Homo sapiens: one gene and its partners. The protein of the gene in region 1 interacts with the protein of each later gene in a biochemical or structural test. Each region holds a gene or a part of one and is shown in the gene's direction. Other genes may lie near its edges. The genes, in order: NFIC, FOXL1, ELF2 and TBXT.

Region 1 (7,023 bases):
AAATAAAAATTAGCCAGACATGGTGGTTTGCACCTGTAGTCCCAGCTACTCAGGAAGCTGACGTGGGAGAATCGCTTGAGTCTGGGAGTTCAGGGCCCAAGTGACCTAAGATCGTGCCACTGCACTCCAGTGAGACGCCTGTCTTTTTTATTTATTTATTTATTTATTTTGAGACGGAGTCTCGCTCTTGTTGCCCAGGCTGGAGTGCAATGGCGCGACCTTGGCTCACTGCAACCTCTGCCTCCCGGGTTCAAGTGATTCTCCTGCCTTAGCCTCCCGAGTAGCTGGGATTACAGGCGCCTGTCACCATACCTGGCTAATTTTTTGTGTTTTTAGTAGAGATGGGGTTTCGCCATGTTGGCCAGGCTGATCTCAAACTCCTGACCTCAGATGATCCACCCACCTCGGCCTCCCAAAGTGCTGGGATTACAGGCGTGAGCCACCACACCAGGCTGAGACCCCCATCTCTTAAAAAAAAAAGTAATAAAAATCACAGTAGCCCCAGCACTTTGGGAGGCCGAGGCAGGCGGATCACGAGGTCAGGACATTGAGACCATCCTGGCTAACACAGTGAACCCCCGTCTCTACTAAAAAAAAAAATACAAAAAATTAGTTGGGCATGGTGGCGGGTGCCTGTAGTCCCAGCTATTCAGGAGGCTGAGGCAGGAGAATGGCGTGAACCCGGGAGGTAGAGTTTGCAGTGAGCTGAGATCGCATCACTGCACTCTAGCCTGGGTGACAGAGCGAGACTCTGTCTCAAAAAAAAAAAAAAAAAAAAAAAATCCAATAGCAATATAAGTTGTAATGATAACAATCATCGCATCATTAATAACAATGTAGTCCTTTGAGAGCTGGGGGGAGGAAAACAGCTTTCTGTGCTAGGAAGGGATCACCCCTGTCCGAAATGCCCAGCCCAGCCTGGTCAAGGCAGGGAGATGGAAAGGCAGTTTTGCTTCTCTTTCTCTTCTTGTTCCTTGTATTTATTCCACCTTGAGGCTGAGAAACTAGGTCCCAGATGTTTTTAATTTGTTTTATTTTATTTTTTATTTTTTTAGAGACAGGGTCTTACTCTATCCCCCAGGCTGGAGTGCAGTGGCACAATCACAGCTCACTGCAGCCTCGACCTCTGAGGCTCAAGTGATCCTCCCACCTCAGCCTCCTAAGTAGCTAGGACTACAGGTGTGCGCCACAGCAACTATGCCCAACTAATTATTTTTGTAATTTTTAGTAGAGACGGGGTTTCGACATGTTGGTCAGGCTGCTCTCAAACACTTGGGCTCAAGTGATCTCTCCACCTCGGCCTCCCAAGTAGCTGGGACTACAGACGCGCACCACAAAAATTATGCCCAGCTAATTTTTGTAATTTTCGTAAAGATAGGGTTTTGCCTGCCGGCCACAGTGGCTCACACCTGTAATCCCAGCACTTTGGGAGGCAGAGGCAGGTGGACCACCTGAGGTCAGGAGTTCAAGACCAGCCTGGCCAACATGGTGAAACCCCATCTCTACTAAAAATACAAAAATTAGCTGGGCATGATAGTGTGTGGCTGTAATAGTGTGTGCCTGTAATCCCAGCTACTCGGGAGGCTGAGGCAGGAGAATCTCTTGAACCTGGGAGGCGGAGGTTGCAGTGAGCCGAGATTGTGCCACTGCACTCCAGCCTGGGTGACAAGAGTGAAACTCTGTCTCAAAAAAAAAAAAAAAAAAAAGGAGATGGGGTTTCGCCATGTTGCCCAGGCTGGGATTGAACTGGGCTCAAGTGATCCACCCACCTCAGCCTCCCAAAGTTCTGGGATTACAGGCGTTAGCCATAGTCCCCAGCTGAGATCCCAAATGCTATGCAGACTCAGTTTCCCTTGCTGGAAAATGGGAAGAATGGGAGGGGCCTCCCCACACCCAGACAGGGAGCTGGGGGCCTCCCACTGCCCCACATTTCTCTTCAAGGGGCTGCTGTTATTTTCGTGGGGAAGTCAGATGAGTGCAGGTTCCAGTCCACCTCTGTCCCCCATGGCCGGGTTCCCCCTCAAGGCCTCAGTTTCCTCATCTGTAGCATGGGTGTTGTGACTGCCCTCAGACACCAATTTGTCATGATTTGGGAGTAGGTTGAAGTCCCAGCTCTGGCCCAGTCTCAGCGCCTTCCCAGCCCTCGGATTTTCCATCTCCAGGGTGGGTCTGCAGGGAACGGGGTGGCCCCTCTCCCCAGTTCTGAACCTTTGTGGCTGAGCGTCTGCTTCTCTGGTCTGTTTCTGTATCAGCACAGTGGGTTCATGGAAAGGGGAAAGGAGGGAGAGGACTCCACCCGGGATTTCTCCTCCCTCTGATTAATCCTGGTGCACTTGAATCTCTTATCTTTTGATGCAGAAATCCCCCCACCCTTCCAGCAGCCCTCAACCTCCAGGCGGGCCTAGTGTCTGCCTGTGGATCTCAGCCAGGCCTGTCTGTACATATGCTCTGTAGGAACAAGCTTTCGTAGTCATTTTTTGTTTTTTTGTTTTTTGTTTTCCCAAGATGGAGTCTCGCCCTGTCACCCAGGCTGGAGTACAGTGGAGTGACCTTGGCTCACTGCAACCTCCACCTCCCAGGTTCAAGCAATTCTCCTGCCTCAGCCTCCCAAGTAGCTGGGATTACAGTCATGCGCCACCACGCCTGGCTAATTTTTGTATTTTTAGTAGAGACAGAGTTTCACCATGTTAGCCAGGCTGGTCTTGAACTCCTGACTTCTTGATCTGCCCGCCTCGGTCTCCCAAAGTGCTAGGATTACAGGCATGAACCACCGCGCCCAGCCGGGTTTTTTTTTTTTGAGACGGAGTCTCACTCTGTCGCCCAGGCTGGAATGTAGTGGCGAGCTCTCGGCTCACTGCAACCTCTGCCTCCTGGGTTCTCCTGCCTCAGCCTCCTGAGTAGCCGGGACTACAGGCGTGTGCCACCATGCCCAGCTAATTTTTGTATTTTTAGTAAAGATGGGGTTTCACTATGTTGGCCAGGCTGGTGTCAAGCTCTTGACCTCAAGCGATCCACCTGCCTCAGCCTCCCAAAGTGCTGGGATTACAGGCGTGAGCCACTGCGCCCAGCCTCATTTTTCATTTTTTTTTATTTCTTTCTTTTTTTTTTTTTTTTTTTTTTTGAGTCAGGAGTCAGGGGTCTCACTACGTTGTCACCCGGGCTGGAGATCAATGGCGCAACCTTGGCTCACTGCAGCCTTGACCTCCTGGGCTCAATTGATCTTCCCACCTCAGCCTCCCAAGTAGTTGGGACTGCAGGTATGCATCACCTAGCTAAGTTTTGATTTTGTAGAAACGGGGCCTCGCTATGTCATCCAGGCTGGTCTTGAACTCCTGGGCTCAAGCAGTCCACCCACTGTGGCCTCCCAAAGTGCTGGGATTACAGGTGTGAGCCACCATGCTTGGCCGCCGACCCTAGTTTTTTTTTGTTTTGTTTTGTTTTTTGAGATGGAGTCTTGCTCTGTCGCCCAGGCTGGAGTGCAGTGGCGCAATCTCGGCTCACTGCAAGCTCCGCCTCCCGGGTTCATGCCAATCTCCTGCCTCAGCCTCCTGAGTAGCTGGGACTACAGGCGCCCGACACCACGCCCGGCTAATTTTTTTGTTTTTTTTTCAGTAGAGACGGGGTTTCACTGTGTTAGCCAGGATGGTCTCAATCTCCTGACCTCGTGATCTGCCCGCCTTGGCCTCCCAAAGTGCTGGGATTACAAGCGTGAGCCACCGTGCCCAGCCTTGTTCTTTTTTTTTTTTTTTTTTTTTTTTTGAGACAGTGTTTCACTCTTGGCACCCAGGCTCCCAGGCTGGAGTGCAGTGGCACAATCTGAGCTCACTGCAACCTCTGCCTCCCAGGTTCAAGCGATTCTCCTGTCTCAGCCTCCTGAGTAGCTGGGATTACAGGTGTGCTCCAATATGCCTGGCTACATTTTTTTGTATTTTTAGTAGGGACGGGGTTTTGCCATGTTGGCCGGGCTGGTCTCAAGCTCCTAACCTCAGGTGATCCACCTGCTTCGGTCTCCCAAAGTGCTGGGATTACAGGTGTGAGCCACTGCGCCCAGGCTTTTTTTTTTTTTTTTTTTTTTTGTGACAGTCTTGCTCTGTCGCCCAGGCTGGAGTGCAGTGGCACCATCACAGCTCACTGCAGCATTAAACTCCTGGGCTCAAATGATCCTCCCACCCCAGCCTCCCAACTAGCTGGGACTACAGTTGCAAACCACCATACCTGGCTAATTTTTGTTTTTTTGATTTTGTTTGTTCATTTGTTTTGTAGCGATGGGGTTTTACCATATGGCTCAGACTGGTCTCAAACTTCTGGGCTCAAGCAGTCCTCCCTCCTCGGCCTCCCGAAGCGCTGGGATTACAAGTGTGAGCCATTACACCCAGCCCAACCCTAGCTGCAATAGGCAGAGAATAGGTCCCTGACATCTTTGTTCTCCCAACCTCAGTTTTACCCGTCTGTACAATGGGTTGTCCATGAGCCTCCACCTGGCCCCCTTAGCTTGCTCCATCTGCATGCTGGGGTTCAACATAGGTCCTCCACGGCTGGGCATGGTGGCTCACACCTGTCATCCCAGCACTTGGGGAGGCCGAGAGCCGAGGCGGGCGGATCAGAGGTCAGGAGATCGAGACCATCCTGGCCAACATGGTGAAACCCCATCTTTCCTAAAAATACAAAAATTAGCTGGGCGTGGTGGTGGGCATCTGTAATCCTAGCTACTCGGGAGGCTGAGGCAGGAGAATCGCTTGAACCCGGGAGGTGGAGGTTGCAGTGGGCCGAGATTGCGCCACTGCACTCCAGCCTTAGCGTTAAGAGCAAGACTCCGTCTCAAAAAAAAAAAAAAAAAAAATGATCCTCCACAAACTTCCGCCTTGATTTGTGCCTCTCACATAGTCCAAGTCTGTTTGCTCATCTGGGCGATGGGTTCTTGCAGGTCCCTGATAAACTTCTCCTGGGTCCCCCGGGCCTTTTGCGTGCCTCCGGCGGCGTGCACGGGTCCGCAGCGACCCCCTGCCCACCTCTGCCCAGCCCCTCCCACTCTGCGGGTCTGTTCAGGGCCCCTCCGACCTCAGCCTTCGGGGCCGGGCAGTGGGTCCGCCCTCTGCGTCCCTGGCGCTCCTGACCTCTCGCCTCTCCGGCCTGCAGGATGAGTTCCACCCGTTCATCGAGGCCCTGCTGCCTCACGTCCGCGCCTTCGCCTACACCTGGTTCAACCTGCAGGCGCGGAAGCGCAAGTACTTCAAGAAGCACGAGAAGCGGATGTCGAAGGACGAGGAGCGTGCGGTCAAGGACGAGCTGCTGGGCGAGAAGCCCGAGGTCAAGCAGAAGTGGGCGTCGCGGCTGCTGGCCAAGCTGCGCAAGGACATCCGGCCCGAGTGCCGCGAGGACTTCGTGCTGAGCATCACCGGCAAGAAGGCGCCGGGCTGCGTGCTCTCCAACCCCGACCAGAAGGGCAAGATGCGGCGCATCGACTGTCTCCGGCAGGCGGACAAGGTGTGGCGGCTGGACCTGGTCATGGTCATCCTGTTCAAGGGCATCCCGCTGGAGAGCACCGACGGCGAGCGCCTGGTCAAGGCTGCGCAGTGCGGTCACCCGGTCCTGTGCGTGCAGCCGCACCACATTGGCGTGGCCGTCAAGGAGCTGGACCTCTACCTGGCCTACTTCGTGCGTGAGCGAGGTGAGGTGTGGTGGCCTGAGCGGAGCGGCCAGCGGGGAGGGTGTCTGATGGTGGTGACACGGGGCCAGGAGGGCCTGAGGGAGGAGGCCAGTGCGTGTGGGTATGATGTGGTGGTCTGAGAGGGGAAGTGGGCCTTGGAGAGTGCCCAATGGGGGCGACACGGGGCACGGAGCATCTGAGGGAGGAGGCTGGTGGGTATAGATGTGATGTGGTGGTCTGAGAGGGGAGGCGAGTCTAGGAGAATATGTAAAGTAGGTGATATGGCACAAGGAGAGTCTGAGAGAGGAGGCCAGTGCATATAGATGTGATGTGGTGGTCCAGGCAGGGCAGCAGGCCTGGGAGAGCATCTGATGGGGGTGACATGGTGCAAGGAGGGTCTGAGGGAGGAGGCTGGTGCGTGTAGATGTGATGTGGTGGTCCAAGCGGGGAGGCGGGCCTGGGAGAGCGTCTGACGCCGGGTGACACGGGGCAAGGAGGGTCTGAGGGAAGAAGCCAGCATGTGTAGATGTGATGTGGTGGTCTGAGGGGGGAGGCAGGCCTAGGAGAGCGTCTAATGCAAGTGATATGGTGCAAGGAGCGTCTGAGGGAGGAGGCCAGTGCATGCAGGGCCCAGGGTGGCTGCTGATGGGATGTGGAGGTCAGATGGAGGAGGCAGGCCTAGCAGAGGTCTCAAGTGAGAGATGGTACAAGGAGGTTTTTTTGACAGAGGAGGCAGGTGGGCTGTGGCGCTCCAATGGTAGAGGCAGGATCTCACCCTCACGTCTGAGGGAGGAGGCAGGAAGGCCCTTGAGGTCTCAGGGGGATGAGAATGTCCTAGATGGTCTTGGGCACAACGGACGGCCTTGCTGGGAGCAGGGGTGAGGAGAGGAGAGGGACAGGCCATCCCAGCCCTCCGAGGAGAGCCAAGAGAGTCCTGGCACCGCTTTCTGTGAATGCTTGTTGGTTGATTGACTCTCAGACCATGCCAGCAGAGGCCTGATGAGCCTGGCCCTGCCAGAGGGGTGTTTGCCGGTGGTCAAATGCCTGATGTTGAGACCAGCTAGCTCTGTGGGGTTGAGGAAATCCAAGGCGGCTTCCCAGAGGAGGAGGTGCAGCTGAGCTCAGCTCTGCAGGATGGCCAGGCCACAGTGAACAAGGAGATGCCCCAGGGGTCCTGGCAGGAGCGTGGAGATGAGAGGCCTGATGCCTGTGCCTCTGGTCCCGGTGCTAAGAGCAGGGTTGGTCCTGCAGCTTCTTGGCTGCGTGGCCCTCTTGGACTTCAGTTTCTCTTGCCTGCCAAATGGTGGAGATGATCAGTCTGTAGCTGGATGGGGCTATGGGAGGTTCCAGAAGATCATGCGTGTAGCCACGTGCGA
Region 2 (6,982 bases), on another chromosome or scaffold:
CTTCCACTCTTTTCAAAGTGGGCGGGGAGGGAAGGAGGAAGAGGTCTTCTGGGTTTTGGTGGAACATAAGCAAGGACTCTGGGATTTTCTTATAATGTCCTGAATCTCCCAGCTCCAGGGGTGCTGCACACCCTCTCCTCTCTGGAGGGCCCCTCTCCCACTGTCTACTCCAGACAATCTCTGCCTCTGAGTCCTTCCAGATACCTGAGCATGTCAGACCCCAGAGCACCCACTTTTGGAGGACACTCACGTGGGCTGTGGTCCCTGTGCGGCCATTTCCTACTTTCAGGGTCTTGGGGTGTTATGTGCCGAGCCTCAGTTTCATCATCTGTCAAATGGGTGAATCTGCCACGCCTGCCTTTCACAGATTTAGTAAGAGTTGGCAAGAGAACTTCCATGGAGCCCTGAGTGTCCACACCTGGTGCTATTGTAAGATTATTTTCTGTCTTTGGAGCACTTCCTCATGGGACACCTGAGGCAGGTTAACTTACAGGGCGTTGTTCAGTTTCCTGGTTTGCAAAATGGGAGCGACAAAGGTTTCTATTAGGGCTGCTGTGAGGATGAAATGGCTCAGTACATTCTAGTTATTCATATTATTATCATCTGTCTCCAATGTTTTTAGGTTGTCAGTAAGGTGAGGGGCTAAACCCTTCATCTTTCCACCGCAGCTCTTCTCAAACATGCTACACGCGGTTGAATCATGCATACGTATGTAACACACACACAAGTCGTACATGCGGTAACTGTCTTTACGTTTGGAAAAGTGATGCAGATGTTTGGAAAGCGACACAGATTACTGTTAACTCAGGTTTCTGCTTTTTGCTTTCCAGTGAGGAAGGTTGAGTGGATGGCTTGGGGCGCAGTGGGAGGAGCTCTTGTCTCTCACCCGTCAGCCTTTTTATCTGAGGCCGTTTTCATCACCAATGCCTGGTCTCTGATCTGCCTCCCTGAGGAACGCACATGCGCTTTGTCCCAGGACTGGGAAGGAGGCTGACTACCCTCATCCCACGCTGAACCCCGTTTCTGCTCAAGCCTCAGAGTTGGAAACTCCAGTCCTTCTGGAGCATCCGGGCAGGCCAGAGATCTCAGGCTTTTCTTGCAGGCTGGGAGGTGAGCCCTCACCAAGTGACTTCTCAGATGACGCGCTTTTCTGGGATCCGAGGCTTATGAATCTACAGGGAACATTCAGTGTCCCCATCTGGCTCTCTAGGACACTCGTTCTAGAGGCCCGCCCGGCCGTCTCCCAGCTCGGCTGCCCCCCGCAGGCCCTTCGCTCTGGCCTCAGCCAACAGAGCCTCCGCACGAGGGCGCATCCGCTCTCGGACTCCTAGGGCTTGAGCCTGCACTCCCCGGAAATATGGAAATTGCCCCAGCGCGGGGTTCCTTCTAACAGAGGCCCCTCCTAGGCTCAGGTTACAAACTCATCAATCACCCGGGAGCCCGGGATTCAAACCCGCTCTGGAGCGGGGCTGGGGCGCAAAGCCGGAGTTCTACAGCTGAAACCTCCCGGAGACTTTGCACACTTCTGCAAACGCGCGGGGCTGGGTGTGCGTCTCCAAACCGCGACTAGAGCGTGGGCATTTGTTTTTTGTTTTTTGGTTTTTCTCTCTCTCTCCTAATCTCTCTCTGTCTCTTTCTCGCTCTCTTTTTTTTTTTTTTTTTTTTGCTTTACTATCGGTGCCCCGCCCACCAGCCTCCCGTGTCTCCGCCCACGTCCCGCCCATTACCAAATCGGGCAGTATTTATCACCGTACAAATTCAAGCTCGGATTTGCCTTAGAGTTTAGAAGACGCGCCGGGACGGCGGGAGTTTCGGTAGAGGCAGGGATGTGCGTGCTGGACTTCGGGTGCCGCGTGGGGAGCTCCAGGAGGGGCTGTGGGATAGGAAGGTGGGGAAAGGGTTGCATAGTGACACCGGTTTATCTCTCGGTCTGGGTGTGTTGGAGCGAGCGCCGAGGCTGGAGAAGGAACTGGATCCAAACTTGAGCTTGCTGGGGGCGCGCGGCCCCGGAGAGGTTGGGTGACCCCAGAGACTGTGGGGCCTGCGGGTTGCAAAGGCGCTGGCATTGAGGTTTCTTCACCCCAAGTTTGAAAGGGGTACGCGGGTGAGAGCGAGTGGTAACGAAAAGACAAAGCCTCGCCCCTCCTGGCCAGAGGTTCACCCCCAGGACCTAGGCGGGCGCGGCCGGGCTGCTCGCTGGACCCACGTTAGAGGAGCAGGGCCGCGGAGGGAGGCCCGAGGTGTCCCAGGGACTGGCCTGTCGCTCCCGCAGGCAGTGCCGGTACCCAGGCCGGTTTTTCCACCCTTCCTGCGACTTCCTTTTTGGTATTTTAAATTTACCCGCTCCCCTGCGGTCTACTTATTCCATGGGCTGGATACCCAGGAACCCCAAACACACGGGTTATTTCTGATTTTCTCATTTTGAAAAAGGATGCCCGCCACGTTTCCGTGTTCAGAGGCTACCTGGGCACTCACATCCTCAGCCGGGTGTGGCAGCGGCAGACACTCCCCCTACCCCTGTAAGTGCCCTCGGTGCCTCTCCCTCCTTCCTGGCCCACTGGCAGTGGGCCATTTCTACACCCACCTGCCATCCTCCCCCTTCCCTCATCTCTTTGACATGCTCACACGATTTGCTCAATGAGACGCCAGTTATCCGAATGTGTGTGTGTGTGTGTGGGTGTGTGTGTGACAGTGTGTGTGTGTTTTAATATTCAGGGGGTGGTCATAAACAGGAAGTAGTCACACTAGGTGCCTCTACCCTTACCCTAACCGGTGGAGTGGGGAGGAGAGGCCCCCTTCGAAATCAGCATGATTCAGGATTTTTTATTCAAACAGTGATGTGGGAAAATGTAAAATGAGATGGGGGTGGAGGGCCGCGTACACCCCAGGGTGGGTGGATACAGGGAGAGCAAGCAGGCTTCCCAAATGCCTAATGTAATCACGGGCCAGCTGCATGCACTTGTAAAGTTGTTATAACCCCCTCCTTGTTATAAACAGGAAAGCCCAGAATATAAAGCTGGAGACCCACATTCACAAATACCAGGCCTCCCGCGCCAGCTGCCACGGCCTCCTTTTATGGTGTTCCTCTCTTGCAACCTTGGCCCCATCAGGAGGACCTTACTTTTGCCCCCGGTTCTCTAAATGGGTTTATTTTGAAACCTTCCTCAATGGAGCTGTGGACCATGAGCTCTTCCCCAGGCCCCCAGTGCCTTAGGCCTTCCCTTCCAGAGAGACTGGGCTCCCAGAGTCCACTTTCCCTCCGATTTCCGGAGAGCCCTGGAAGGGAGGGTGTGGGAGAGCAGGTCCCTAGAGAGTGCCACCTCCTACTGGGTCTGCCACCTGTTTTTCCAGGGAGGGCCGCATCCCCTTCTCAGCAGACACTCAGGCTTCTTAGATACTCTCCCTGCCCCAATCTAAAAGGTTCCTAGGACCTCAGAAAGTGTTTTACTAGACTGTGGCATCTCGATATCTCCGGTTAAGCCTGGGAGAAGAAAAGACCTTTTGTGGGAGGCCCTGGCGTTATGGGGCTCCCCCAGGCCAGCGTAAAACTCATCCCTGCACACCCACCCCCATCTCCACCTCTCCTTCCTGGCTCAGCAGACCCTGCTCTGAGCCACCGCAGTCTACATCCTGCCTCACTGACTGTGTGTGCTTACAGCGTCAAGGGGTGGACGTGATATTTCAAACATCAGATCAGTGCGTTTATATATTGGGTGCCCGGAAATTTTTCCAAATAAACACAGCTTGATTCAACTTGGGTGGGCGGACTTATCAACAGACTAATTCTATAAACAAATGAAGGAATAGCCCCAAAACCGATTGGCTGGTATCAAAAAGACACGTGGAGGGAAAAGCTTGGAGTTTTTCAGCAATGAAATTTTAATTAATGTGGGTGGGCTGAGAACACAAGGACTGTTTATCATAGACAATTTATTTTCCAGGGCTAAGTCAACATATAACAGCAAACTTACAACAATTATTTAACATTTTTAAAGCCATGAAGAAGGGACAGAGCACGGAGCGGCCGGGGAGAGCGGCAGAGCCAGAGGCAGAGGCACGGCTGGCTCCCCGGGAGGGCCCTTGCGGCGCGGGGCGCAGTGCCTAGGCCGCCCGGGTCTCCTGCGTTGCGGGGAGCGCAGCGCAGGCTCTCGCTTGCCATGAGTCACCTCTTCGATCCCCGGCTGCCTGCCCTGGCCGCCTCGCCCATGCTGTATCTGTACGGTCCCGAGAGACCCGGCCTCCCTCTGGCCTTCGCCCCCGCGGCTGCTCTAGCTGCCTCGGGCCGGGCCGAGACCCCGCAGAAGCCTCCCTACAGCTACATCGCGCTCATCGCCATGGCGATCCAGGACGCGCCCGAGCAGAGGGTCACGCTCAACGGCATCTACCAGTTCATCATGGACCGCTTCCCCTTCTACCACGACAACCGGCAGGGCTGGCAGAACAGCATCCGCCACAACCTCTCGCTCAACGACTGCTTCGTCAAGGTGCCCCGCGAGAAAGGGCGGCCGGGCAAGGGCAGCTACTGGACGCTGGACCCCCGCTGCCTGGACATGTTTGAGAACGGCAACTACCGGCGCCGGAAGAGGAAGCCCAAGCCGGGCCCCGGGGCCCCGGAGGCCAAGAGGCCCCGCGCCGAGACGCACCAGCGCAGCGCGGAGGCGCAGCCGGAGGCGGGGAGCGGGGCAGGGGGCTCGGGCCCCGCAATCTCCCGCCTGCAGGCAGCGCCCGCGGGCCCCTCGCCCCTCCTGGACGGCCCCTCTCCGCCGGCGCCCCTCCACTGGCCGGGGACCGCGTCCCCGAACGAGGACGCTGGTGACGCTGCCCAGGGCGCAGCGGCCGTGGCGGTCGGCCAGGCAGCGCGCACAGGGGACGGCCCGGGGTCCCCTCTGCGCCCCGCCTCCCGCAGCTCTCCGAAGAGCTCCGACAAGTCCAAGAGCTTCAGCATAGACAGCATCCTGGCGGGAAAGCAGGGCCAGAAGCCGCCTTCAGGGGACGAACTCCTAGGGGGTGCCAAGCCTGGGCCCGGCGGCCGTCTGGGTGCCTCGCTCCTGGCCGCCTCCTCCAGCCTCCGTCCGCCTTTCAACGCTTCCCTGATGCTCGACCCGCATGTCCAGGGCGGCTTTTACCAGCTCGGGATCCCCTTCCTCTCTTATTTCCCCCTGCAGGTTCCCGACACGGTACTCCACTTCCAGTAAAGCAAACAATGGCACGGTTCTTCTCCCGGCCCAGCCTGAGCCTCCGCTGAGCGAAAGGCCACAGCTCCCACCGGCGGAGGATTTTAAAATGATCTTTGCCTGGGTCGGCCTGTGGGTTCAGGGAAGTGTTACCAACCATTGCGCGCAGGTGGGCGCGCTCGCCTGCCTTCTCCGAAGCAAACTTTTCCCAGCAACTGGGAGCAGCTACGGAGACTTAAAAGATCCCCGCGGGGTCGTGGGCACCGCACGTGGGCCCTGCAGGGACCTCCACCGCGGGAGATTCCTTGACGTTTGACCTGTCTAATGGAGTGTGGTCTTCAGCCGCCCACCGCAGGTCCTGCGAGTCCCGGGCATGCAAGGGCCCGCAGACCACCCAAGGCAGGCCTTACAGGTGCAGTTGAGGTCCTTTCGACCGGGGACCCCCGTATGACCGTCGCCTGCTTCGCTGTTGCCGTGTGGCTCAGGCCTTGGTTTTGAGCCCATCTGGGTGGTGGGTGGTCACAGCTGGGTTTGTTCCTGACTTGAAGTTGTGGAGGTGCCGGGGGTGACCCCGGGTTTTCAGGTTTTCTGAGAGATGTAGGGCCCGATGAGGATTTATGACCAATGTTCAGCTATAGAAGCTGATAACCACCCAGAGCAATAACACTTTTATTTTAAACAGAGACTTTTTCTCTTAATTTCTTTCTGGGTAGTAAAAAGAACATGTTTCATTCTTTGCATAAATACTTGACTCTAAGCATTGACCTTTGAAAACGCTTGTATTAACAATTTTTATTAAGAAAGTGCACTCTATATAACATCTTCTTGCATTACGATAGCTCATTAGCCAATACACATGCAGCTATGTAAGCCACAACAGCAGACGTCCTATCCTTTTGCTTTTGTTTTTAAGGGATCAAAATATTTCAAGGGATACCATGAGGAAGGGTGTGAGGGGAAGGGGATATGCCTTGGACAATGTCAGAGTTTTGATTTCCATGTTTTTTCAAGATCCAGGCTTGGTGGTCGCTATATTTTTCAGAAACAGATAATGAAAGACTACATTTAATTTAAAAAGTTGGGTGAAACAACCAAAAGCAGATGCAGAGAGAGAGAGGGATGAATGCGGGGGAAGAATAAGGGGACGTGCTGGTGTCCGCTGGAAGGGGCCTCTCTGGGCCCCAGAGGACCTGAGGTTTGATGGCAGGAATCTCCCAGACACTCCTGGCCCCCGCACCCCCTGCAGCCGCCCGCTCTTCCCTCCCAGCCCTGCCAGGCAGGCCTGGAGGCTGATACTAAATCAAAACCTTAAAGAGGTGACTGGCAGTCTGGGGAGGGGAGAAGAGGTCTGCAACGAAAATCTAATTAAGAACATTGAGATGTTCACAACCAAGTTCAGCTTGCAGCTTCCGGGGAAATGCAACCGACCTCTATGCCATCTCTAGCTGGGTAATCTTCGAGGCCCTGAAATGCAATTTTCTGAACCTCTAAGTCACTTTTATTTTATGTCATGTGATAAAGACACAAGTAGTCACGCACTATTGGAAATAGGTTGGGAGGGAGGTCTTTAAGATCGCTTTTAAAATAGTTTCCAGGACTTGTCTAAAAATGATGACAAACTTTGAATCCAGAGGGCCTGTTGGTCAATGTGTTGGAAAGGACATTTCAGGCCGGCAGAGTAATTGGATAATTCACAGGCATAGAGGTGACTTTTGGAAAATTCATTCTCCTATCCATGCTGAACCAGGCTTCCACGACTGGGTTCTACCCAGGCCAGTGGGAAGACTCTGGGAAACTTCAGGCCAGCC
Region 3 (7,465 bases), on another chromosome or scaffold:
TCCTTCTGCCTCAGCCTCCCCAGTAGCTGGGACTACATATCCATACCACCACACCTGGCTAACTTTATTTTATTTTCTTTGTAGAGATGGGGTCTCAAACTATGTGATCCTCCTGCCCATGCTGGTCTTGAACTTCTGGGCTCAATGATCCTCCCACCTTGGCCTCTCAAAGTGCTGGGATTACAGATGTAGCCACAGCACCCAGCCAAGGATGAAATAATTTTAAAAAAAATCACTTTCCTATATATTGAAGAAAACAAAGGGAGAAATAACACAGAGAAAAGAAGTATAAAAGCATTATACCTAATATGCATATAATCATTTATATTTAGTATATAAATATATGTATATGTATATACATGCACAGAAAAAGGCCTAGAAGCTTAAAGGCTAAATTTTCATTTATGGTTATCTGTGGAAAAGTAGAGGTAGGGGATGGCTGCGTAAGTGTGAAGGGTAAGTGAGAAGTGGGAAGGGAAATGGAGAGGGAAGGTGAACTTGGGTTTTAAAAAGTTTATTTTGAATTATTTGAAAATTGATGATGAGAATGTATTAATGAATCATTGTATAATTAAAAAATAAACTATAATAAAAATAATTAAATAAAATATAAAAATAATTAAAAAATAAACTATATAACATAAAAAACTATATAACATAAAAAACAGCAAAAGCAATCCAGTTACAACAGAGATTTCCTATTCCATGATCATTAGCTTGCTACTAGGACTACTGGTCACACTAGACTTTTCCTTCTGACCCCTGTTCTCTAGAATGCTTTACTGTAAACCAGGGGTGTCCAATCTTTTGGCTTTCCAGGGCCACACTGGAAGAATTATTATCTTGGGCCACACATTAAATACACTAACACTAATGATAGCTGATGAGCTTAAAAAAAAAATCGCAAAAAAGTATTTTAAGAAAGTTTACAAATTTGTGTTGGGCTGCATTCAAAGCGGTCCAGGGCCGCATGCAGCCTGCAGGCCCTGGGTTGGACAAGCTTGCTGTAAAATTTCTGGGTTCCTTACTCCGCTGGCCTCCATAAGGGATGTGTTTAAGAACCATAGCCAAAGAGCTGCCTGAGACACACCAAGTTAGGCACCTTGCAGGCCAATATGAAGGAAGCAGATTGCTCTTTCTGCTGTTGTTTCAGTCAGCTATCACAACACTAATTCCAGGAACCAACTACTCCAAAACACTATTACTCCAAAACGCTATTACTCCAAAACACGGCTTGAAACAACAATCCTTTATTCTCTAGGTTGCTGACCCCAAGCTGGGACTGGCTTCAGACCTGCTTCATATTTCTTTGACCAGCAAACTAGCCAGGTATGTTCTTCACATTGTGAAAAACAAGAGTGCCAGAGAGGGAAGGAGAAACATGAAATACCTCTTGAGGCCAGGCTCAGAACTGTCACACTCACTTCTGCCTATCTTCCTTTGACCAAAAGCAAATGGACTGATCTAAGCTCAACATGAACAGGATGGAGAAACATCCTATCTCTACTGAGAGGAACTACAAAGCCGTATTTCAAATGGCATGCATGCATGGAGTAGTGAAAAATTGGGAACAATAATGTTATCTACCACTGTTATCCACCTGGGACTTTCCAGCTTACTGCCAATCGGCAGTGGGAGAGAATTTCTTCTCAACGTGGCTGACAACAGAAATTATGTGACTTGGCAGGTGATATCTGTCCCTAACAACAGGAATCAGTCTTTGTCTTTGCCGGCTCCTTAGTATGCTATGTTATGTTATGAAGATGCAATATTATTGATTATTAATTAATTCCTTACAAATATCAAATTGGGCAATGGTTCCCATAAGTGATAAGTTATTTACAAGAAGTGAGATAAAAAGACTCCCTTAGAAAGGGTGCTCTGTTTGCAGAATCCTGTTTATTGTGTATTAAAGATTTGAATGTTACCAAATTGTTACAAATTCTTTAGTTCAAAAGGGTGTCAACAGTCCCATGATTTAGAACTCAGGAATCCAGAAAACTTTGTCAAGAGTTAAGAGGATCTTTGATTAACAGTCACGGTCTCCAGGTTTCCTCTGTGTTCAAGAGTAAAAATTTCTTAAATAAGAATAAGAGCCCTCGGACTTGCTTTTTTTTGAGACGGAGTTTCGCTCTCGTTGCCCAGGCTAGAGTGCAATGGTGCGATCTGGGCTCACTGCAACCTCCGCCTCTCGGGTTCAAGCGATTCTCCTGCCTCAGCCTCCCGAGTAGCTGGAATTACAGGCACACACCACCACACCCGGCTAATTTTTTGTATTTTTAGTAGAGACGGGGTTTCACCGTGTTAGCCAGGATGGTCTTGAACTTCTGACCTCAGGTGATCCGCCCGCCTCGGCCTTCTAGAGTGCTGGGATTACAGGAGTGAGCCACCGCGCCCGGCCTTTTTTTTTTTTTTTTTTTTTTTTTGAGAAGGAGTCTTGCTCTGTCGCCCAGGCTGGAGTGTAGTGTTGCGATCTCGGCTCACTGCAACCTCTACCTCCGGGGTTCAAGCGATTCTCCTGCCTCCCGAGGAGCTGGGACTACAGGCGTGTGCCACCACGCCCAGCTAATTTTTGTATTTTTAGTGGAGACGGGGTTTCACCATGTTAGGCAGGCTGGTCTCGAACTCCTGACCTCAGGCAATCCACCCTCCAGGGCCTCCCAAAGTGCTGGGATTACAGGCGTGAGCCACTGCGCCCGGCCCAGAGTTGCTTTTTAAGAAAGGAAGAGAAGACTCACCCCCAAGAAAATAGAGGCAACAGCAGTATTAACAAAAGAAAGAGATCATTACATTCTTAGGCTCTTCAGGGATTTAAATCTGGAGCCTCCTGCAGCTTTCTGACATTTGAGCCTTACTCTAGGGTGATTTCCACGGTTCCCACGTCCCTTTCAAGAGAACAGCTATCACTTATATTCCTCAGTGTTTCTTCTTTGCTCCAGACTGGTTGTGAAGCCGTAAAAAGGGTAACGCTGGAGCCCAGAAATCAGCTGGTGAATACCGCGCCAGGTGCCAGGTCCATCGCGGCGAGGCTGCAGGAGCCCTGGAGGGGAGCAAAAGGAGCCCCGCGCGCACCGGACAGGCTGTGCTCTTTGTTAAAGAAACAAATACAGAAAACGCCGCGGCGGGGAATGGTGGTGGTGAAGAAATAGACTGAGGCGTTTGTATGCATTAACTGTGCCTACAAAGCCCATTAAAGAGACGCTCCTACACAGGGCAACCCACGGCACCGTGTCATTGGCTTTTGTGCACTTGAAGGCGCGTGAGAGTGCCCCGCTCGAAGGCTCCCCTTTGTGTGAAAGTGTGGAAACCAGAAGCGTGCAGCCACTGCTGGGTTTTCGTTTTCGAATTCGCAGGCACTTGGGCCAAAATACTCCCACACCAGAACACTCTCTCATTCTCGCACCAACAACACTCAGACTTGAGTTACTTCTCCGTTGCGGACCGCGCAAGGAGCGACAATGGCTAGGTGCGAGTGCCCGCAGCTCCCCGGGCAGCTCCAAGGGGCCGCCCGCCGCGCTCCGCAGCTGCGCGCTGGGCCCAGCCACCCGACAGCCAGCAAACGCCGGCACCAACCGCCGCGCGGCCGGGCTGTTGGGCGGGTGGTAATTTCTGGGAATGGGGCGGGGTCGCGGGTGTACTACGCCCGGCTTTTGCTAGCGGGGAGGAGGAGCTGGCGGCGCCGAGGGGCGCGAGGCTGGCGGGGCGGTGCGCCACGTGCGTCACCGGCCGGGGCGGGGCCGGCGTCGCGCTCCTGCCCGAACCCCCACCTTTCACTAAGCCAAGGCTGAGGAGTGGGAACTGGAAAGACCGGGCTAGGAGTTTTTGCAAAACCTCGCCCCCCTGTAACTGTCAGACTGCCCGACTGTGGGGCCGTCTCCGGAGAAGGGCGAGAGTCCTGAGTTGGGGATGCGGTGACGGCGGGGCCTGCGGGGGCCCTGAGTGGCGAGGGTGTGTGCGTGCGGTCCCGGCCGGCGGGGGAAAGCCGGCGGGCGCTGCAGGTGCACGCGCGGCCCCATCGGCCTCACACGCCTGCCCCGTGCGGCAGAGCCCCCTGCACCAATCCGGGGCTGGAGTGGAGAGCGAGATCGGGGAGCCCTGGGCAAGGAGCCGGACAAGTGACGAGCGTCTTTACCTGGGAAGGCGGGTTTGGGAGAAGTTGGGCGAGGAGAAGAGGGCGGGATTCAAGACAGCAAAAGAAGCAGGTTCGGCGGGCTGGTGGGGGCCCGAGGGCGGCGGGGCCCCGCGGGGTATAAATAGCCGGCCCGCGTTTGACAGGCGCTGCGGTGACTGGCGGTGCCGCCCCCGCCCCCCCGCCGCGTGGGGAGGGGAGGAGCACTCTGAGCTGGCGGGGAGGGGGAGGCGGACTCCAGTGTCCTGGTGGAGGCGGCAGGAGGCCGAGGGGGAGGAGCCGAGGCGGGGGGTGGAGGGAGGGGGCCGGGAGCGGAGCGGGGCGGGGGCAACCATTGCTCCCAGCGCCAAGCTCTGTGTCGCCGCCGTCGCCTAGGCGGTTGGGGGTCGGTGGGGCGGCGCGGGCGGGGGTCGCTGCGCGGGGCGGCGAGCCTCTGTTTTGTCTCCTTCTCTCCCTGTGGAGCGGCTCGGGCTGCTGGGGAGGCCCCGGCTCCCTCCGGACGCTCGGCCAACGGCGGCGGCTAGTCCGCGGCCCTGCTGAGAGGGAAAAGGACGCCGCGGTCTTCCCAGGCGTCGCGGAGAGCAGGTAAGAGCGCGGGCAGCCGAGGCTGGTGAGAGGGAGCGCGAAGGGCGCGGCGATAAAGCCTGGCTGTCCCGACTGCCGCCGCCTCCCTCCGCGCCCCCGCCCCGCGCTTGTGTTGTTTGCTTCGGGGTTTGCGGAGGGGTTTTCCGGCGGCTGCGGCGGTGACACCGGCCGGGGGCTGGGGGAAGGGGGCTGAGTGTCCCCAGGCAACGGTCGCGGAGCGGGACTTGGAGAAAGGGGAAGGCGCGCTGCGCGCCTGCCCGCGGGGAGCGCGGGGCGCGGGGCAGGGCTGAGGGAAGAGGTTACAGACCCCGGCGGGGGGGATGGGCCGAGCGCAGCTGGTCTCTCCGTGTTTACATCTCTGCGCGAGTCACCTCTGCCGAGAAGCGGACTGAACTGACCCGCCTCATCCCGCGGGGAGGCCAGGGCGGGGGTCCGGCTCCGGAGGAAGCGCGTCCTGGGAGGGTTTGTGTAGGGCGGGAGTCTGCGGCCGGCGCCGGGGCTGGGCGGCGAGCTCGGGGCGGGACCTGGGAGGCTCCGGCCGCTCTGGGTGGCGGGCAGGCGGGGGGGGGCGCTGGACACCAGTTTCCTTCCCTGTCGTGCCTTATCGCCGCCGCTTACCTTTCCTTCCCGGCGCTGCTAGCTTGCACGACAGGTTGTACTCGGCAGTTCTTTTATTCTCGCTCTCCACGCCGGCACCGTGCTGCCATCTCCCCCTATTCCCCGGGAGGTAGGGAGGCTTTGCTCGGATCGGAATCTGTTTCTTAAGCAAAACAAAAACGGGCTCGTAACAGGCACGTCCAGTGACCGCCTTCTGGATCCTCGCGAAGCTGGTCCTCAGGGACCGCGCGACGGGATGGTCTAGGGGCGCGGAAGGAGGACAGGGAGGGCTCTGCCAGGGCTGGATGCTGACTCTACCCCAGGAGCTTTGTGATCAGGGTAGCCGAGCCCTCTCTTCTGCTCCATTTGGGCATTTTTATTCCATGTCCATAAAGGACTCAAAAAATATTCCGTGACACCAAGAATAATCCAGATCGCACAGTTTCTAATCTTTTTCCCTCTGCCAGCATCCTGGATGGACTCTTTCTAGGAGGCAGATTCGCTGCAGAATAGCCTTTAAGTTTAGTACTTCATTAAATGAGGAAGAGGGGGACACGTCATTGTAAAACTGTTAAAAATTCCCCCCTTTCTTGTGTTCATGAACATTTACTTCAGCTTAATGGTTTAAATTGTAATCCGGTGATGAGAGAATAGTAATCGTGTGTTTGATAATCAGATTTGTTTTCCTTTTTATCTGTGATTCTCTATCCTGAAGTAAATTATGCACTTTCTTTGGTGCCAGAATCACGGAAGGATGTATGCTTTACTAAGAAAGGATTGGATATTTGTGTTTCAGAGTTTCTTCAAAAGGTAGAATGACTTATATAGGACTGGAAACCATTAAATTACATTTAAGGGAATTTAGGAATAATAAAACTTTTTATAGAGCATTACAGTTTACAGAGTACATTCATGTAAATATTATTGAGACGATATCTAGTAGTTAAACACATGAAATAGAAAATTGGAATATCCTGGGCATTTGAAGTTTGAATATTTATGTCAACCTATTTTTAAGTTTAGTGATTTAACTCATTGGATTTATCATTGCCTTTCATTTCAGACATAAATACTCATTTACAAAATAGTCAGCTTGAGTATGGTTGGAAAGAATTTGTAACTTTGGGATTTTTCTGTCCTAAGTAAACAGATTGGTACCTGTGGCCTGTAGGGTCTGCTAATGTTAGTGGCTTTACCTGCTCATGTTGTATACCATTTTTGGAGGAGTAACAGCTTCACGATGATATAATTCACATACTAGTCAGTTCAGTTTAAAGTGTACAGTTTGGTGGGTTTATTAATTTTTTAAAAAATTACTCCATTTTGCAGGTGAACAATTCAGTGGTTTTTACTACAATTGTCCATCGGTATCTGTTGGGGATTTGTTCTAGGGCCTTCCTCAGACACCAGAATCTATGGATGCTCAGGTCCCTAAAATAAAATGGCATAGTTGCTGGGTGCAGTGGCTTGTGCCTGTAATCCCAGTTATTCAGGAGGCTGAGGTGGGAGGATCTCTTGAGGCCAGAGTTTGGACACCAACCTGGGTGACAGAGCAAAATCCTGTCTCCTAGGAAAAATGAATAAAACTGACATAGTATTTGCATATAAACTCTGCATATTCTCTTGTATGCTTTAAATCATCTCCACATCACTCATACTACCTAATACAATGTGGATGCTATGTAAATAGTTGTTATACTGTGTATTGTTTAGGGAATAATGACCAGAAAAAAGTCTGTACATGTTCATTTACAGACATAATTTTTTTTTGAGTAGTTTCTGTACCTCATTGATTGAATCCATGTATTCAGAACTCATGGATATGGAGGGCCGACTGTATATTCAGAGTTGTGCAGCCATCACTATACTCAATTTTACAGCATTTTAATCATCCCCCAAAAGAGCCCCATATCCATTAACAGTCGCTTTTCATTTTCCCTCAGCACTCCCAGTCCTATGCAACCACTGATCGACTTTCTATCATTATAGATTAGACTGTTGTGGACATTTTATGTAAATGAAACCATAAATGCGGTCTTTTGTGACTGGCTTCTTTCGTTTAGCATAATGCTTTCAAAGTATATCCATGTTGTAATATGTGTCAGTACTTCATTTCTTTTTTTTTTAAAATCTATTTTCTTTCTTTCTTTTTTT
Region 4 (6,995 bases), on another chromosome or scaffold:
AACTTGAATTCCAAAGAGATAGGAGCTGAAGCACTAGAGTTTTAAGGAGAAAGGTTTGGGATTGTCACATTCCCAAACATTCAACTGGGCAGGTTGGTTTGTTGTTAATCTGTGAACTCCTGTCACTAAAACAACCACACACTGTCATGTGTGACGAAGCCCACTGACTCCAAAAAAATAGCTTGGATGGGATCAGGTTTTGAGACGCAGCCTGAGGCTGACGGTAGTCCCTGCGTCCACCCCACATGGCCACAGCTTCCCTGCAGATCAGGGAGCACATCACGAAGCCTTCTCCCTAGAGCAGCAGGGAGGGGCCGGCTGTGCACAGGGTGGGATCCTTGTCCTGAGAGGAAGACTTTAAAAAACCAAGTCTCTGTTCTTTCCCACAAAACCACAACCACCTCAAACAACCCAATGGGCTTTAAAAATTTTTCAATGGTAAAGAGTCTAAAGAATTACGTTACACACCTTTTAAAGCAATAACAAAAGCCATTGGGTTTCTTTTAATGGGAGAGACAAATAAACCAATTGGTGGCAGAATTATTGGCCATGAAACATGGCTGTCATCTCTAATGTAGAACTTGTGACTGTTTGCGATCAGTCCGCTTAGTCAGTGTGGGAGAAGGAGCTCATGAGAAGAACAAAATGAAAAAAAGACGAGGAACACCCCAAAATATGAACATTGCTTAGTGCTTGAGGTTAGCATTTATATACATAGAGAGAGATAAACATACAGCCAGCCCTCCATAGCCACAGGTTCCATATCCGTGGTTGGTTGAATTGATAGAAAACATTCCAAACTCCCTCTCCCCAATAATGAAAGAATAAAAATTATACAAATAAAAAGCAATACAGTATAACTACTATTTGCATAGTGTTACATTGTATTAGGTATTATAAGTAATCCAGAAGTGATTTATAGTTCATGGAGGAAGTCCATAGGTTATATGCAAATACCATGCCAAGGGACTAGGGCATCCCTGGATTCTGCCATCTTTGTAGGTCCTGGAACCAATCCCCCACAGATACTGTGGGTGACTGTTTTACATATATATGAAGACAGATACATATATAATATTTCTACAAGGAGTACATATATAATCAGAAAAGAAATTCATTTGTTTTTCTTGCAGAAAGAGAGGGACTAGAGTGTGGGGTAAGAGTCACGCGAGGCTGTCCTCCACCCCTCCTTGAGCCTGTTACAGCTTCATTGTTGCCTGCTTCTAAAGATAAATGGCTTTGCTTTTTCAGAAGGGATTGGGCCCAGGAAAACTGCCTCTCTGGGAGTCGAGTGGGGTGTGTGTGTGTGTTTTCTTATAAAATGTTTCAAGCATGTTTTCGGTGGGACAGTTGCATCCTGAGGCCCAGCCATAAGGCTTTGTCTTGTTTTTCTCTGAATGGCTGGGCTTGCCAAGGAGAGATAGACCCTGGGAGCGAAACAGCTGGCGGTGCCTCAGCCCCTCTTTCCTCCCAAGGAAGCGCATTGTTATTAACTGGGAATTCTTTATAGCCGGGCTGGAGGAAGTTTTGGCTGTAAACTGTCATGCACTGCAGCCTTCGCTGAAAAGGCGGAGGGAGTGGGCCTGGTCCTGGGAACCGAGGAACAAAGATCAGAAAATCAGCCACAGAAAGGGGAGGAAAAATAAACGTTAGAAAGTGAAGACAGGTGACACTACACAAGTGCTGGCCAAAGTCGGTGACTTCCAACCTCTACCTCCTCCGACTTGGGTGGTTCAATTCCTGGGTCGTACTCTTCAATGCTTCAGACATTCTCTCTGGAGAGTAGAAATTTTATTACGCGTGTTAGAAACGGAATATTCTTTCCTGCTGAAGTTGTATTCTTATTTGGCCGTGCCCCTCCTGTTCGGAACAGTTTTAGAGCGATCTGTTAAACCCTCCAGTCTTCTTTGGCGCTTCCCGACTGTGGGAAAAGCGGCCGCGACGCCGTCCGAGCGCAGGGGAGGGATCCAGCCTTCGGGACTCCTTTGCCCTGAAGCCGCAGGAGAGGTTTCGCTCCCGTGCCTAGGGTTCCGAGGCCCTCAATTGCCTGGGACCCACCCTCGTTCCTCCTTCACCTCCCCTCCACTTTTCCCTTTTATCTTATCCTCGGGAGGCCTTGGGCCAAAGCGATGACCTCTTAGACATTTTAATACCCGGAGTAAGGAGAGTAACACGCACCACGCTCTCCCCCAAAGCCCAGGACCCGATGAGCCAGTGAAGGCGTGTCAGGAGGGTCCGGCGTCAGGAGCAAATGAGGTCCTTTTGGTGCCTCTTTCTAGAAGGAAACTTCCCCACCTCGGGTCAGCCCCCTGGGAATATCCATGCATCCCAGACATCAAAAGACACTGAGAAATGCGGACAGGGACTAGACGCTCCGGCTTCCTGACTCGTCGGTGTAAGTTGGAGAAGGGAGAGAAGGAGCCCTGTCCCCCACGGGCGGCAGGCACCCTTCCCCGGGACTGGCTCCTGGCAGCCCTCCGCATACCGCGAGGCGGGTCGATCCCTCGAGTCCCGGGCGGGGATCCCTCCTTCGGCTTCCCCAGCAATTCCCGACCCCGGAGCGAGCCCGGCTGGGCGAGGGGCGAGGGGCAGGGGGCAGGGGGCAGGGGAGACTTAGCGCGGGGCGCAGATACCATGTCCGCGGGAAAGCCCCCTTGCTAGGGCGCAAGACTCCTCTGAACTCGCTGCCCCACCCGATGCGCAGGCTTTCTCTAGAGGGGTTGGGGCTGGGGTGCCCGCTCAGGAGACCGGGAAACAGAGGCTGCTACCCGAGGCAGGCCCTCGTCCAGCGAATGGGCGAGGTGTGCAGAAGCGCAAAGCCAGGCCTTGGAAGGGGGAGCTTCTGCCTCCTTCCCCCTTCCTGGGCTCCCGTTTTAGGAGGAATGTTACTGTTTAAAGAGACCCCACTGAACTATTTCCTGCTCATTGTCACCTCTCCTTCGCTCTCCTCGCGTAAGTTCTCACCGAAAGGTAATAAAACAACCGCTGCCGACACCGCTTGGCGCTGGGCCGGGCGGGGAAAGCGCCCCGAGTCCCACTAGTCCGGACCACCCCGCCAGCCCCGACCTTCTCCCACCTTCCGTGAAAGCAATGACACAGCAGAAACCACGCACACGCCTGGCACACTCGATGCGCGCGCTGACCTCGGCAACAAGTCCTGTTTTTATAAGAGAGCGAGGAGGACACTTCTCAGAAGGGGTTGTTTTGCTTTTGCTTATTTCCGTCCATTTCCCTCTCTGCGCGCGGACCTTCCTTTTCCAGATGGTGAGAGCCGCGGGGACACCCGACGCCGGGGCAGGCTGATCCACGATCCTGGGTGTGCGTAACGCCGCCTGGGGCTCCGTGGGCGAGGGACGTGTGGGGACAGGTGCACCGGAAACTGCCAGACTGGAGAGTTGAGGCATCGGAGGCGCGAGAACAGCACTACTACTGCGGCGAGACGAGCGCGGCGCATCCCAAAGCCCGGCCAAATGCGCTCGTCCCTGGGAGGGGAGGGAGGCGCGCCTGGAGCGGGGACAGGTGAGGCCGCGCGAACGTTCCAGCCTGGCGCGGCTGCGGGATCCGGGCGCGCTGGGAAAGCGAGGAGGACCCCGCGCGGGAATCAGGGAGCATCGCAGGCTGCCGGGCAGCCCCTCGCGGAAGTGCGGGCTGGGGCGGGCTGGGGCGGGCTGGGGCAGGCCGGGGCGTCCAGCTTACCTTCCTCCGGGGCTTGCCCCGCCGCTTTGATGGAGGTGCAAACATTTGGAGAAGGGCGGGGGTGTAGGGGCTGGGCCGGGGCTCGCAGGGCTGGGGCCCCGGATTTACATGAAACAGGCGTGCGGGAGCCCATTGTTGGCCCCCGGCCTCCCAGACCCGCCCGGCTGGGTCTGATATGGCCGCTCTCGGCCAATGGGAGGCTGCCCGGCACTTCAAAGCGTGCGCGGCCCAATCCGCCGAGCACCCCAGCGCTGCCGCCGCGGCTCTATTTATGGGGAGGGCACTGAATTTCGGTCCCCAGAGACCTACACTAGTAGAGCCTTGGGGAGTTCAAGTGGAATAACTTCTCCCCACCCCTCTGCCCCCGTCCCCTCCCCCCAAGTCTTGGTCCGCGCCCTCCTCCCGGGTCTGTGCCGGGACCCGGGACCCGGGAGCCGTCGCAGGTCTCGGTCCAAGGGGCCCCTTTTCTCGGAAGGGCGGCGGCCAAGAGCAGGGAAGGTGGATCTCAGGTAGCGAGTCTGGGCTTCGGGGACGGCGGGGAGGGGAGCCGGACGGGAGGATGAGCTCCCCTGGCACCGAGAGCGCGGGAAAGAGCCTGCAGTACCGAGTGGACCACCTGCTGAGCGCCGTGGAGAATGAGCTGCAGGCGGGCAGCGAGAAGGGCGACCCCACAGAGCGCGAACTGCGCGTGGGCCTGGAGGAGAGCGAGCTGTGGCTGCGCTTCAAGGAGCTCACCAATGAGATGATCGTGACCAAGAACGGCAGGTGGGTGCGCGTCCGGAGCCCGCGCGCGCCGCGCTCTCCAGCGCCTGGGCAGCCTGGGGGACCTGGCAAGTTCCCGGAGGTCGAACCCTTTTTCTCCTGGAGGAGGGCTTTGTGTTTGTTCCCGCTCTGGTTAACTCCCTCGAGTGCATTTCTACAAGCCCCTCTTCTGGGGCTTTCTCCGCGGAAGCTTGGGGAGGAGGAACGCGCACTTCGGTGTCCCGACCTCGGAGGCATCCCGGGACCCGCGAGGCGCGCCCTGGTCCCCGCCTGTCCCCGCGGGATGTGGCCTCCTGCACTGAAACCCTTCGCCAGGTCCTCTCCTCCCCTCCCTCCCGAGGCCGTGGAGATGGTGAGGAGGCCACCTGGACCTGGCAGGGCTCGGGGAAGGGGGAGCTTGGGAGTCACCCTCGGACGTTCCCCAGGGGGCTCCTCTGTGCCCCGAAATAACTGAGGCCTCTGTGCCCAGCTTCTGCCTCCGGCCTACCTGGTCAGTGTCGGGGTCCTCCTGCGCCCGCCCCGTGTTTTCCAGGAGGATGTTTCCGGTGCTGAAGGTGAACGTGTCTGGCCTGGACCCCAACGCCATGTACTCCTTCCTGCTGGACTTCGTGGCGGCGGACAACCACCGCTGGAAGTACGTGAACGGGGAATGGGTGCCGGGGGGCAAGCCGGAGCCGCAGGCGCCCAGCTGCGTCTACATCCACCCCGACTCGCCCAACTTCGGGGCCCACTGGATGAAGGCTCCCGTCTCCTTCAGCAAAGTCAAGCTCACCAACAAGCTCAACGGAGGGGGCCAGGTAGGTGTGAGGAGCCCGCCAGGTCTGGGACCAGCGAGGAGGGGGCCGCGCTGCGCCTTCTGCACGGGGGTTGTGGGAAGGGACGCTGCTTGAACGGGAGGCGACGTCTGCCCTGGAGAAACTGCCACAGCCTTCTCTAATAAGGCCTTTAGCGCTGTTTATACTAAGCTGATAACATCCACGCCTGGCGAACGGGGAGCGGGAGCACTCCCCTTTGAAGGACTGGAGCTTTTGGGGAACTTCCGTTGTCTAGCCCTAAACTCTCCTGGGGGTGGAAAAGATATCAGCCTTGATGGCAAAGTCGCATTTAAATTTAAACATGCGCCACAGTACTTACTGCGTGGAGTCGGAACAAACTTGTAAAGTCGTGCTTTTCTAAAGAACATTCTTTAGTCGGGGATTGTTCCTGGAAGACCCCAGGTTAGGCAAGTTGCAAACAAGCTCAGTCTTTTAAAAATGACCATAGCCTTCCTGAAAGCCTTAGTACTTTATTCCACCAGGTGAAAGGATTTTGTGATGAGCATTCATTGCTTTTAATGGTGTGTAGCATCTCACATCCCTTTTCCAAACAAGCTGTGGGAATAGCACATATAAACCGCGGAGAAGCCTCCCCTGGTGGAACCCCACTTCCCTCAACAGCAGAGACACTTTCTTGGGATCCAGAGGACTTTCTGCATCCTGGAGAAATGGATGTTTTGCTGTTTTAACGCAGGCCTTTCAGTGCCACCAATCCTGTATCTGTCTCCCTCAGATCATGCTGAACTCCTTGCATAAGTATGAGCCTCGAATCCACATAGTGAGAGTTGGGGGTCCACAGCGCATGATCACCAGCCACTGCTTCCCTGAGACCCAGTTCATAGCGGTGACTGCTTATCAGAACGAGGAGGTGAGAAGGACAGAGGCGGATCGCTTTCCCGGTGTGCTGCGGTGTGGTGTGCTGCTCCGTGGAGATTCTGGAGGAGCGGGGAGACGCGCTAACCCGCACTGAGAGGAAGGCTTCCTGCCCTTTCAAATAATATTCCGGAACTTGAAATGGAAGCACAGGAGAGAACTGTTTAAATTAAGTCCCCATTCAAACATTTTCCCCTTGAATTCTCCATACAAGTGTTTAAAACTAGAAACAACTTCTCAATGCTCAAAATGAAAAGATCCAAAAAGCATTCAGGTTAAATGGTGTGAGAATTTCTTGAGAACAAGACTTGAGTGAGAGAGGGGCATGTCCTTCCTTGGAAATCTTCCCCAAAGGGTGGGGGGGCAACCCCTCAAATCTCTGCAGTGTGAAGACTCAACTAGATACAAGCTACTGCATAGGTGCCTGTAAATCTATGCCTAAGCCCAACCCCAAAGTACTGCAAATTCGACATTAGTTGGATACCTTGTTGGTGTTGACGTTGACCGAAAACTAGAACTTCCAGGTCTCTATTTCCTAAGCAGCCCCAGACTGTGTTTTCAGCCATTTCTGATTTATACACATGGAACATTGTTAGTAGTAGGTTAAATTTATTGTGAATCCCACTCAGAACATTGACATTGAAAATTTTTCATAAGCATGCTACTCTGTACAATTACTCAGCTATTTTCAGTTCCAAATAGAAAACTGTATGTGGAAAGAAGTCTGATTATATTTGAATATTTAAAAGTGGTACTGGCATTTCTCAATTTCTTGGTGCCAAATTAAATCCCCTGGCTAATAGGGAATATACTAGTAAATGCAATTTCTTGTTTTTCAGATCACAGCTC

Evidence for each region.
Region 2: the proteins of NFIC (region 1) and FOXL1 form a complex in vitro, tested with the Homo sapiens proteins (one study listed by BioGRID).
Region 3: the proteins of NFIC (region 1) and ELF2 form a complex in vitro, tested with the Homo sapiens proteins (one study listed by BioGRID).
Region 4: the proteins of NFIC (region 1) and TBXT form a complex in vitro, tested with the Homo sapiens proteins (one study listed by BioGRID).

The regions. Positions count from the first base shown.
Region 1 is NC_000019.10:3,376,576-3,383,598, forward strand, and holds part of NFIC (nuclear factor 1 C-type), read left to right. Parts: intron 1-5,136; coding exon 5,137-5,668; intron 5,669-7,023.
Region 2 is NC_000016.10:86,574,567-86,581,548, forward strand, and holds the start of FOXL1 (forkhead box protein L1), read left to right. Parts: upstream 1-3,982; 5' UTR 3,983-4,157; coding exon 4,158-5,195; 3' UTR 5,196-6,982. UniProt on the Homo sapiens protein: Transcription factor required for proper proliferation and differentiation in the gastrointestinal epithelium. Target gene of the hedgehog (Hh) signaling pathway via GLI2 and GLI3 transcription factors.
Region 3 is NC_000004.12:139,174,216-139,181,680, reverse strand, and holds the start of ELF2 (ETS-related transcription factor Elf-2), read left to right. Parts: upstream 1-4,462; 5' UTR 4,463-4,714; intron 4,715-5,114; exon of another isoform or gene 5,115-5,176; intron 5,177-5,332; exon of another isoform or gene 5,333-5,526; intron 5,527-7,465. UniProt on the Homo sapiens protein: Isoform 1 transcriptionally activates the LYN and BLK promoters and acts synergistically with RUNX1 to transactivate the BLK promoter. Isoform 2 may function in repression of RUNX1-mediated transactivation.
Region 4 is NC_000006.12:166,164,852-166,171,846, reverse strand, and holds the start of TBXT (T-box transcription factor T), read left to right. Parts: upstream 1-3,995; 5' UTR 3,996-4,255; coding exon 4,256-4,461; intron 4,462-4,990; coding exon 4,991-5,255; intron 5,256-6,006; coding exon 6,007-6,141; intron 6,142-6,985; coding exon 6,986-6,995. UniProt on the Homo sapiens protein: Involved in the transcriptional regulation of genes required for mesoderm formation and differentiation. Binds to a palindromic T site 5'-TTCACACCTAGGTGTGAA-3' DNA sequence and activates gene transcription when bound to such a site.